Linked DNA regions of Homo sapiens. The protein of the gene in region 1 interacts with the protein of each later gene in a biochemical or structural test. Each region holds a gene or a part of one and is shown on either strand. Other genes may lie near its edges.

Region 1 (4,802 bases):
TGTGGCCTGTTAGGAACGAGCTGCATAGCTGGAGGTGAGCCGCAGGTGAGTATTACAGCCTGAGCTCTGCCTCCTGCCAGATCAGTGGCGGCACAAGATTCTCATAGGAGCACGAACCCTATTGTGAACTGCACATGCAAGGGATCCAGGTTGCACGTTCCTTATGAGAATCTAATGCCTGATGATCTGAAGTGGAACAGTTTCACCCAAAACCATTCCCCACCCAAAACCTTTCCATCCATGGAAAAGTTGTCTTCCACAAAACCAGTCCCTGGAGCTAAAAACGTTGGGGAGTGCTGCCCTAGCAAAATGCCCCAGTCAGGTCCATTTCTACCCAGATGGTGAGGTTGGGCGGTCCAGAGGAGCGGGCCCTGATGAGTGTGTGGGCGTCCAGGTGCAGTGCTGGAAGTTTCCAGCCTGGCTCCATGATCATAGAGGGTGGGGCTGGGGGGTTTGTTAGGAATTGACAGAGGATACCTAAAGCCTCATTTCAGTAGCTAGAACAGCCTCATTCCAATAGCTCATAACTGGGGTCCACAAACTATAGAATTCAGGGGTCTGTGCACTTGGATTGGAATAGAATACAACTTTATTTTCAGTCATTTCTATTTCCTTGGTTATGAACAAAGGTAGCAAAGTGCAGTTGTATCAGCAGTGCCAATAGAAATTACAGAGTTTTTCATATCCCTTTACAGTTTGCCACAGGTATCTATCTTAAAATATTGTTTACACTCATCTCTCTTCAGTTTACCATTGTTTAATAGGCCTACCCTCGATCTTTTTATTCAATATGTTAATAAAGAAACCTATACACATAGTATCACGTTATACATTTTAAAAATATTTTGACAACTGTATATAAATATAACTAGCTTACTTTGTAATCCTACATATTTTATGTGTATGAAAATATTATTCTGAAATTAGCCAGGCATGGTGGTGCATGCCTATAGTCCCAGCTACTTGGGAGGCTGAGGTGGGAGGATCACCTGAACCCAGGGAGGTCGAGGCTACAGTGAGCTGTGATTGCACCACTGCACTCCAGCCTGGGTAATGGAGTGAGACCCCATCTCAAAAGAAAAGAAAAGAAAATATGATTTTGAGAAGCGATCCATGGCACAAAAAATGGCCAAGAGCCCCTGACTGAGAGGGGCCCTGTTGACACTCACATGCCACCCGCCCAGAGTGAGGGCAGCTGCCCAGCTGAGCAGGGACCCCGCAGGAGGAACCAGAGCAGGAGAATCCCTGGCACCACCCTTGCTCCAGTACACACCCATGGGTGCTCAATGAAGAAGTGAGGACAACTTGCTGCCATCTTCAGTTTGATGGAATGGCCTTAGGCCTCTGCTGCCGATTGTGAAATCATCGGCCTCTTACCTAAAAGCTCAGGAGGATTTAGGGGGAATGCAGATAGAGCACATGAGTTCACTGTGTAATGAAGGAAGGGGAGCCTCCCAGCATTAGATCTTAGGGAATTGTTCAAATTTAAGGAAGCAAAAGCCAAGAGTTGGGAGGAGAGGCAGGGAGAGATTCCTCCCTCCTCAGCTGTAGCTATAGCATTGCTTGGGGCCATGGAAAAACAGTTTTCCACACCCTAGCAGACAGCAAAAGCTATTTCAATGTGCCAAGTGAAAGTTGAGCCATGCCCTCATCCAAACTAGCCCCCAGCCTCACGCAGGCAGCTCCGGGCACCCGTGCACACTGGGTTCACCCTTACGGAGCTGTTCCTCCATCAGGCAGCTCTGGGCACTGGTGCACACTGGGCTTGCCCTTACGGGGGCTATTCCTCCATTTCTGTCTCCCCTTGTGCTGCCCCTCACTGGGGGCAGCACCACCCCAATCCACGCCAGGCAAGCCCTGCCCTGGGACACCGCTGCTGTCTGTTTTCATGGATGACTCAGGCCCCAGCAAAGATACTCTTTGTTCCTCAAAAGAGGGAATGGAGGGTACACTTGCTCTTAGGAAATGTCCCCCACCTTGCAGTCTGGCTTCCTGATCTCTCTCTGTTAAGATCTTTTAAGCCACCCCATCAGCCACAGAACGAAGCGCATCCACCAAGAATACCTGAGCCCACATCTCCCCCTCCCTCGCCCCGCCAGCTCCTCTGCCCCCCACAGCAGGAGAATGGACTTGTTTCCTATTACACAGGCCATGTGCCCACTGGGCAAGACCCAAACCCGTGGAACCCCCACTCCCTCTACTCCCCACCCCCTCCACCCCCCACCTTGCACTGCTGAGCACCTCCACCGCCTTTTGAAGAAACTTCACAGATTTGAGAAAACTCTGTGGGAGGGGCTGAGGTTTAATTCCGGAGTGGGGATGGCCTAGGAGGACACCAGAGGATGAAGCGGGGGGTGGGGTCTGGGAGTCTGAAATAATAGAGATTTTCAGGAGAGCAGCTCAAAGGTACAGCCCAGGGCCGCCCACTTCTGCTTCCTGCTGGGCTCTCTGCCACCTTCCATATGACATTGGCCTGGTCGGGGCAAAGAAGTGACCGACAGGCCCCTGGGACATCTTTCACTCATTATTCATTCACGCACAGGTATTTGCTCACAGTGGGCAATGGGAAGGGGAGGCCAAACCACACACTAAATGCTGCCCACAGAGGGCCTGCAGCCCAGGGGGGATGATGGAGAACAGCTGCCTGGAGGGAGGCCTAAGGTAGAGCCTTGAAGGCCAAGGAGAATGGAGAGGAGAATGGAGGGCCTTCCACGCACGGGCACTAAAAGAAGGCCAAGCCTACTTGGGGAGAGGCAATATCGGGACCTGTGCACTGGGCTGCACTGGGCAAAAAAGGCTATGTGTGTCATGCTGTTGGGAGAAAATGGGTCCTGCGGTTAAGTACATCTGGGAAGTTCTGGATTAAATGAGGAACGGATCTCTTTACTGCAGGACTTGTCAAGACCTTTAACCTGTGAATGCAGAATGAACCTTACGGTGGATCCCAGGACTGGTGTCCCACACTGACATAAGGACTAGCTAGGGGAGGCAGTGGGAGCTGATGAGATTAGAGAGAACACAAGGGGTTTTGAATGCCAGGCCAAGAAGGAAGGCTAGACTTTTTCCTTGGGGCAGTGAGAATTCTCAGGAGGCTTAGAGGGATGTAGACTCAGGGAACCTGGGGCAGTTTTAGTAACCAGCGAGGCCAGGGCTGTGGCAAGACTAGCCAGTCCCAGTCAAGGACTCCCCAGCTCCTTGACAGCAGGGCCATTCTGTGGGAGAGAAAACAGAGACCATGGACACAGTCAGCAGTAAGGGTCTCAGACTGGCGTGAAGAGGGAAGGCTGGGCAACCCTTGAATCCAAGCTGGGTACAGTGCTCAAGCCTACTTGGGTTCCAATCTGACTCCACCACTTCCTAGCTGTGGGTGTCTGACCCAATGTCTCTGTGTCCTCAGGGTATTTGTTTTTTTTGTTTTTTTGAGATGGAGTCTCACTCTGTCACCCAGGCTGGAGTGCAGTGGTGTGATCTCAGCTCACTGCAACCTCCACCTCCCAGGTTCAAGCAATTCTGCCTCAGCCTCCCGAGTAGTTTGGGATTACAGGCATGCACCACCAAGCCCAGCTAATTTTTGTATTTTTGGTAGAGATGGGGTTTCACCATGTTGGCCAGGCTGGTCTTGAACTCCTGACCTCAAGTGATCCGCCCACCTCAGCCTCCCAAGGTGCTGGGATTACAGGCGTGAGCTACTGCGACCGGCCTGTGGTTTATTTTTTAGAGCAGTTTTAGGTTGGTAGAAAGTATAGAGGTTCCCACCTACTTCCTCCCCTTCTCTCTCCTCAGTTTTCTTGATGAGTAACATCTTGCATTAGTGTGGCACAATTGTTACAATTTATGAACCAATACTGATACATTATTATTAACTGAAGTCCATAGTTTACTTGAGGGTTCACTCTGTGTTATCCAGTCCTACAGATGGTAACAAATGCACAATAGGTATCCACCATTACAGTATTATACAGAAGAGTTTCAAGGCCTTAAAAATGCTGTCTGGGCCTGCAGGGTGGCTCATGCCTATAATCCCAGCACTTTGGGAGGCCAAAGTGGGAGGATCACTTGAGTCCAGAAGTTCAAGATCAGCCTGGGCAACATAGAGAAACCCCGCCTATACAAAAAAGAAAAAAAATGTTTTAATTAGCCACCTGCAGTCCTGGTGCACCTGGGTGGCACAGACCTGTAGTCCCAGCTACTTAGGAGGCTGAGGTGGGAGGATGGCTTGAGCCCAGGAGGCTGAGGTTGCAGTAAGATGTAATTGTGCCACTGAACTCCAGCCCGGGTGACAGAGCCAGACCCTGTCTCAAACAAACAAACAAAAAAAAGCTTTCTGAGCCTCAGTTTTAACACCTGTAAGATGAGTGTGAAACTCCATCTGAAGCCCCCCAGTCTCCTCCTATAGGTTTTTGATTTAGGCCTCCCAACAAATCAAGTATGACTGAAATCCACTAAATGTCTCGAACTATGGTCTGATATCCATCAGAATCACTAGGCTTGGGTCAGGGCGAGAGGTCCTCATTCAAATGCACATTCTAAGGTCTCAACTGCAGACCTGCTGAGTCACAAGCCCTGGGGTGGGGCCCAGGAATCTGCATTTTAACAAGTCCCCTGGTGCACAAGGAAATTTGAGACCCACTGTGCCCGACAGCTTGTGCACATGGAAATTTGTTCTGCCAAAGTTTCTCAGATAAAAACAGAGAGGTTCTAGCCACTGTCAGGTCAAAGCTCTGGAGAGCTGTGCCATCTCCCAAAGGGAGCAGAACGGTTTGCCATCAAGCCAGGCAAGAGCCCATTTCTGCCTGTGCAGC
Region 2 (7,926 bases), on another chromosome or scaffold:
CTAAACATTTTAACTCATTTAAGAATCTCAAGCCCTTAAGATACGCAAGGCACAAATTCCGTCAGAGCTGCTCGGACTGCGTACCAACCCAAATCTTTGAGACAATGTTAAGTACATGGTGCACAAAAATCGCTGAAATTAGATCATGAATTGAACCTCAGGTCAACTGATGTATTTTCCTCTCTTCTTTACCCTGTATGACAGGGAGTGATGCAAAGTTGTAAATAAGGAAGCAAAAATAAATTGATCTTATTTGTAAATAGCTGAAGTTCAACTTTCTGGATGCTGGACAAATGCTCTAAGAAAGGCTGTCAAATGCTAGAGGTAATGTGAAAGTTGTCAAGTGTTGGCGATGGGATTCAAGATTAAACAGGCCATTAGATCTGGGTATGGGATAGAGAACTCTTGAACCCTCAACTGAGTCACGCAATATGACTCTATCTTTAAAGAGTTTCTACTAGAAAAGTATTATATATACATACATTTGAGAATGTCTTCCTAGAATTAGATTTGAATCTGTTGGGGGAAGAAGTTTGTACACGGCAGCATAAAATGTGAAAGATGCACCAATTACAGTATTGCACAAATACACATTTCTCTTAATACACTCTTTTTGGCTGGAATAAAAATTTCAAGTTAGCTACCATCGTTAGCTGTGCCATTTGCACCAACTTAGAAAGTGAGGCCAATGTATAAGTAATTAGCCATTTTTAATCTGATTGCCAAGCAGCTAACACAGCTTCATTAAGAAAGTCCAGGAACTAACATGCATAAAGACTTTCATCATGTTTTTTTTTTTTTTCAGAGGCAATTATGGGACCTCTGCAAAATGACCACAATGTTGGCCTACAGCAAAAGTCTTCGTTGCCTTTGGATCAGTGCTGTGATTCACTATATCATTGCTGTCTGGATTGACATAGAACTTCTGAACTGATTCTTTTCGGATGTATTTCTGAGATTCTTTCTCCTTTCTGAATTCAAAAGACTGAAAGAACAGCTAGAACTCTACTGTTAGCAATATGATCATTAAACCACCTGGAATGCTAAGTGACACGTAGCATGTTTTATGGGCAACGAAGGAAAATAAAAGATTACTGCCGAGAGATATAGCCTCTTTTTATGATTGAACAGGAATTAGTATACACATTGGAGGCAAAACTGTTACCAAGAACCTTTGTCAAATAACTAAATTTAGTGACCAAATACCAGGTGTCATCTAAGCAAGAAAAACTGTTTCATAGTAAAATGATATTCTTTTTCTGTTGTTAACCTTATGTCCCAGAAATACTTAGTCAGCTAGAATATTACAAACCTTTATATGTTAAGGACTGCCTTTTTATTTTAAAATGGAGTATAATAGAGTTAATAATATATGCCTCAAATATACTTATAGACATGGATTCTCTCATATGTGTACATCATTGTCAGACGTGGAGATGCCCATCAATGTATCATAAGAATAATCTGCCTGAACTGAAAATTGCCTGCTAGTCTTAATCCATGTTGATTCAGCTCTTTTTATACTATAAATGCTTGCCTAGGTTCAAATACTTTAAATCTACCAATTAAATACTTAAAACACTTTATTGAACATAGAACTGCTATCATTCAACACTCCAGTTTCATTAATCAGCCCAGAAATAGGTAACTCACCACCATTCCCTGATCCTAAGTACATTACCACAGTGACTGACATTCCTGGTTTAAAAATAAAATCTTGTTTCAAATATAGCTTCCCGAGTTCTGGGTAATGAATATAGTTTCATAAAAGTTGACATCATTTCTTCTGATTTCGCCAGAATTAAATACATCCAGTATGCCTCCTGGATATCTGACCACCATATCACTCAAGGCTCTCACAACCTGGTGGGCGTTTTAAGGAGAAGGAGAAACAGACCTGCATAGATGGGGTTAAATCCAAAAGATATCTAATCTTGTGGTTAGAATAGTCGTTGTGTTTATGTGTGTTCAATATGCCATTCAGAAGTTGATTTTTACAGTTCATTTATCAGTTGGCATGCATACATTATGCAGATTTGCTTATGAGGAGAACATTAATATGTACATGTCCAGAACTAGTAAATGCATTATGCTTGGAAGCCAAGCAGTACTCCCATACACTGTTCTTCTTAGAGGTCAGTTCTAACGCATGCTGTTCCAAATAGACCCAATTTCTCTGCTGATATATATTCAAAATGCAGTAGGATGTGGTCATACACACCCAGAAATACCATCTTCATGAGGTGGGGGTGGTGAAATTCAAACATTTTTTTTTTAGCAATGCATTATTGGATATCAGGTACAAACGTGCCTGTCAGCAATTCTAAAGCAAATGAAATAGATTTATTTGAGTCCATCCATTATACAGAAAAGATATTGCTTTACTAACACATACCTCCTCCTCCTCCTCCATTTTGGGGGGACTCTCCCCACCTCCCCCCAAAAAACTCATCACAGTTCACTACGCAACTGATGGAGTATTAAACACTGTCTTCCAAGCTGTGGGAGTTAAAAAGAAGTCGCCTTCCTGCCACACTTCCCCAGTGCTGCAATGGACATAGCATCTCCTCCTCTATCGACCTAGTATGATGCTCGCTCCCCAAGCACTGCAGTCCCCTCGCCGAGGATTGCCTTGGCCACACGCACATGCAGCGGGAAGTCCCCCGATAGGGACAACCACATACCTTTGCTCTCCATTTCGGTCCCTTTCGAGTGCTGGGAAGTTCAATGGAAGTTGGCCGGAAGATGTGGGCCCGCTTCAGATTCCCAAATCTGGGAAGCCAATCTGATGATTTCGCCCGTACTTCCTTCCTTCCCCTCAGGCTTCCTGAAAGATGGGATTTCTTAAACCTTGAAGCTGCAATCAGCCACCAAAGGACACTTAGGAGCAGCAGCAGATTGCCTCTACAGGGGATACGTTGCGACGCGCATCTGATACTGAAATGCATGCACAGTGCCCGCTCAGATTTTTTTTTTTTTTTTTTTACCTGGGTCTGGAAGCTGCAGGCAGGAGCTGTCCTCCGAGCGTGGTGCTGCAGGTGTAGTGACAGATCATCCCACTTTGCTCTCTGGATGCACAGCAGATTTGCATGGGCGCTGGCACGCATGCGCAGGGCGTCCCCCCTCCCCTTTTCACCGCCTCCCGCTCCCCCGCCCCCTTCGCCTCCCTCCCCAATACGGTCCTCAGTTATCCCAGCTGAGGAGCTGTAGCATTCGGTCACAGGGAAGCGCTGCTAAAAATAAACGCCGGACCGGATTTTCCTCTGCAAACTAGAAAATGGATTGGACTAGTACTGCGTGCATCAGGACGAATTACTGAAGTCTTAGAGGAGGCTAGTGTCTCCAGGCAGGGTATGGTTTTATTCAGAAGGCAGGGAGGAGAGATTTACGAATCGTTTTTAATGTTCACAATTTGGGTTTCTCTTTCTACTTGCTGCAGTAACTTTCCAGCTGTCTGCTTCCCTCTCCTCTCCCCACTGACTTCACATTGCTTGTTATATTCCTGTATGTGTTTTGTTTTGTTTTTCGAGAGTGGGGTGAGAGTAGTTATGGAGCTGTCAAAGGTTAATATTCTCTCGCTTCTTTGTTACTCAAACTCAGTGTTTTCCTGCCTGCCTCCACCTCAAAACTGTTCCATGAGCAGGCTCCAAGGCTTCTAAAGTTCTTCAAAAAAGCCACTGAGGATATTTTGAGGTGCTCTTTTTAGCTTTTTTCCAACAACCTGCAAGAAGTCCCCAAAGGTGGGGAGGCGTCTTATTGATAATAAGTACTTCCAAAAGCAATACCTAATCATTTTTGTGAAGTTGCAGGGATAGAGTATTTTTCTTGTACAGAGCTCTAGAGGAAGATGCAAAACCACAAATCTCTTGAAGTGCTACTTTCATATCAAAATATTTCTAAAGCCCACACTGTATTTCGTTTATATGCAAAATGTTTAACAGGAAAAATTGTGTTGTATTTACTACCTTTTTTTTTCAATAGTCCAGATTTTCCTGAGGTGATCATCTCTCCTTGAGAATAATAATCTTATTCTCCAGAAGTCCAGAAAACTCTGTTATCTGAAATGGTTAAGGAAGGAGATGTGCAGATTAGTCACATACTCTACTTCATGAAAGATCCTTCCACAGTAGGCTTCTAGTCCCAATTTTCAAAACATTGAAATATAATAAAATGTACTCCCAACAAGAAACCTGGAGTTGTATCTAATTTAATCTTTTTCTGGTGATTCAGAGGGCATCCTTTGATTTTTCCAATGCCTGAGGGCCATGATTACAAATATTAACCACGGATGGTTCAGCCAGACATGGACATTATTAGTGGAGGACTCCCACTAATGAACTGCTGTGGGTCAGCAACGCCTGGATCCATTCAGCATTTAGGAGTATCGGATTGCAGAGGCCACAACCTAGGGCCTACTAATTTTTAGGTTCTCCAACTGTATGCCAAAGTACGTGTTTGGAAGAATCATAAAATTCAGGATTTCTTTTCAATGTTGAATAGGCTTAGGAAGTAAGCTTAGGGTGGGAGTAGTGTTGCTCCTTAAGAACAATAGTCTATTTCATTGAGATAAATAATTTCTGCTCTTAATACTGCACCCCGTTACATGTTCTTTCCTTCTCAAAGGTTTTAGAATAGGAGATATCTTTAGAATGCATCTCTATGTACTCTTCATATTTATTCTTTTACAGACGGAGAAACTAAAGGCAGGGGAGGAGTGGCACTTGAAAAGAGTCACATGGTGAACCAGATCTGGGCTCAGAACCTAAGTGTCATACCTCAAAGGCAGAGGCAAGCCATCTATAGTCCAGAATGATTTTTCATATAACTGCCTTCCCATTATCTACAGTGAATAAGAACAGGGAGAACCTTCTAGTTCATAAATTATCATTATTTTTATTCATAATTTTAAGAACCCAGCTGCTTTATTAAATAGAAAGCAAATCAAATTTAATGCAAAATTTGTGTTCTGACATTCAAGATCTTTCCATTCTTCTCCAAGCTTAACTCCTAGACAACAATTGCTATTATCCTAAACAAACCTCAAGATTGTTTTTAAACCAGGGGAAAGTGGGATCACAGACCCCCACTACCACAAATTATGCAGTCTAGTTTCCCACGTATGGGGAAATTGCAGGGGTCAGCACATCTGGAATGCAATTGATAAGCCTTGACTGGGAAAACAACCTTCTTGCTCATGATAGCTCCTCTGTCAAGATTTTTCTTACCTTTGCTTACATAGTCATTGCTGGAATATCTTGACCTCATCAAACCACTACCTACCACAAGTATCTACAAATTCAAATCTTATATTTTCCTCTAGATCCATCTCCTTCTTACAGTCTTCCCTGATACTCTTAGTCTGAAAATATTCTCTACCAAGAACACTGATGATCCGCTCACTAATGATTCCAAAACTGATGAGTTACTTCTCTTCCATCACTATTTTTTATTCTGTACCAGAATGATTTATGTATATATCTTGTTCCTTTTTCCCACTCATATTTTTAAATGGCCTCCTTTTACTTCAGTGTAGTCTAGAGTGTCCTGAACATAGGAAACAATAAAAATGTTTCATGAATTAATAACATTTAGCATACATGTTTTTGTGTACTTTACTATGTGACATTAACTACAATCACCATGATAACAAAATGATGATAATATTGACCTAACATTGCTCAGAGCTTACTATGTGCCAGGTACTATAAGGATTCTAAATGTTTAATGAATATTATCTTTATTCATTAAATAAGCTATATGAACATGCAAACGGCCAATAAATATATGAAAAAAAGTTCAACATCACTAATCATCAGAGAAATGCATATTAAAACCACAAAGAGATATCATTTCATCCCAGTTAGGATGGCTATTATCAAAAGACAAAGAAAATAAAGCACATGCTAGTGAGGAAGCAGACAGAAGGGAATTCTTATGCACTGTTGGTGGGAATGTAAACTAGTACAGTCACTATGGAGAACAGTATTGAGTTTTCTAAAAAAAAAAAAAAAAAAAAACTAGAATTACCATATGATCCAGCAATCCCACTACTGGGAATTTATCCAAAAGAAAGGGAATCAGTATATCAAAGAGATATCTGCACCCATATGTTTATTGCAGCACTATTACAATAGTCAAAATATGGAATCAACTTAGGTGTCCAACAACAAATGAATGCATAAAGAAAGTGGGGTACATATACACAATAAAATATTATTCAGCCATAAAAAAGAATGGAATCCTGTCATTTGCAGCAACATAGATGAAACTGAAGGACATTATGCTTGATGAAATAAGCCTAAGAAACAGAAAGTTAAACACCACATGTTCTCACTCATACGTGTAAGATAAAAGAAAAAGTTGATTTCATAGAAGTAAAAAGTAGAACAAAGGATAGGAGGAGCTGGGAAGGGTAGGGGGAAGGAGGGAGAGATTTGTAAAAGGATACAATATTACAGCTAGGTGGGAGGAATAAGTTCTAGTGTTCTATACGACTGTAATATGGTTATAGTTAATAATAATATTTTACATACTTTAAAATCAGCAGAAGGAGGATATTGAAGTTTCCCAACACAAAGAAATGATCAATATTTGAGATGATGAATATAATAATTACCCTGATCTGATCACTTACATTATATGTATTGAAATGTCACTGTTTACCCCATGAATGTGTACAATTATTATTTGTCAATTTAAGAAATAAAATAAAATATTATGAGGTTAGTACTATTATGATCTCTGTTTTAAAGATAAGCAACCTGGAGCACAGAGAGGTTAAAGTATGAATAAAACATGATCTCTGCCGTACAGAAGCATAAAGTCTATTGAAGATGATAGAAACATAAATGATTTTAAAAGCTATCGTAAGGTATAAGATAGGTTGTCACAGGTGGAGTAGGAGGTGCAGAAGAGTTGGCAGTCAGCCAGCCTGAGGGTTTTAAGAAAGTTTCCTGGAGGAGACATATATAGAGCTAGTTCTTGAAGTGTGAGCTTCACAGGGTTGGGGTATGAGTGTGGGGCAGGGACCATGTGAGTGTGCAAAAGTACTTTTGGACATAAGAAGTTATTATCATTTTCCAGGTTTCTCTGCCAGATGTGAATCTCCAATGTCAAAGAGGAAAGTGGACGGAGGCAGAGAAATGCTTAGTACTGTTCCGGGATCAGAGCTACAAAACTCCAGAGTATCTGGGAGAGATCATATCTCTTTATCTCACCTAAGTTTTCTATCATACATTTGAATAGAGAGACAGTAGAGCATAGTGAAAAAAATAGATTCTGGAACCAGACAGACGTGGGCTCAAATACAATTTGCTTCTTATTATTTATGGTACCATCTTGGGCAATTAATCCATTTGGGTCCTATTTTTTTAATCTGGAAAAGTAAGTAATATCTTCTTGTAGGCAGAGCTGTTGTAAGGACTGACCATAATACTTATAAAAGTGTCTAAAATACTGGTCACTCAATAAATTGTACTCACTATTATATATAGGGTCTTGGATCCATCCAGGCTAAGGATTAGAGCTGGAATCCCTGAAGGTTCCCTCCTTTTTAATAAGAAAAGGGTCTAATCCCCCCATCCCAAAATGGAAGAGGATTTAAAGGAAGAATTGCTTCATAAAAGTGTTGATGAAACATAATTTGATCTAGTTATGATGAACTCACTTAATGATAATCCTGGAATAGGGGAAATAGACTAGTAGCCTGGCAATTTGCTATTTCAAAGTGCCAAGAATTAGGTGAGACCGGGTTTCTTGTATTTGGGGTGAATGTGCATTCTGGTTTTCCCAAAATGTTCCCGTTTTATACTCATTGTCACAACATACTTTTAAAGAATGCCCCCTTTGCCCATCAAAAACAGTTCTGGCTTAATAAATTATATGACCATATACCTTTAGTTCCTACTAGAATGTACAGAAATAATA

Evidence for each region.
Region 2: of the proteins of MAPK13 (region 1) and FGF12, one has a biochemical effect on the other in vitro, tested with the Homo sapiens proteins (one study listed by BioGRID).

The regions. Positions count from the first base shown.
Region 1 is NC_000006.12:36,140,291-36,145,092, reverse strand, and holds the end of MAPK13 (mitogen-activated protein kinase 13), read right to left. Parts: 3' UTR 572-4,802; downstream 1-571. UniProt on the Homo sapiens protein: Serine/threonine kinase which acts as an essential component of the MAP kinase signal transduction pathway.
Region 2 is NC_000003.12:192,724,497-192,732,422, forward strand, and holds the start of FGF12 (fibroblast growth factor 12), read right to left. Parts: upstream 3,046-7,926; 5' UTR 2,988-3,045; intron 2,828-2,987; 5' UTR 2,698-2,827; coding exon 2,685-2,697; intron 1-2,684. UniProt on the Homo sapiens protein: Involved in nervous system development and function. Involved in the positive regulation of voltage-gated sodium channel activity. Promotes neuronal excitability by elevating the voltage dependence of neuronal sodium channel SCN8A fast inactivation.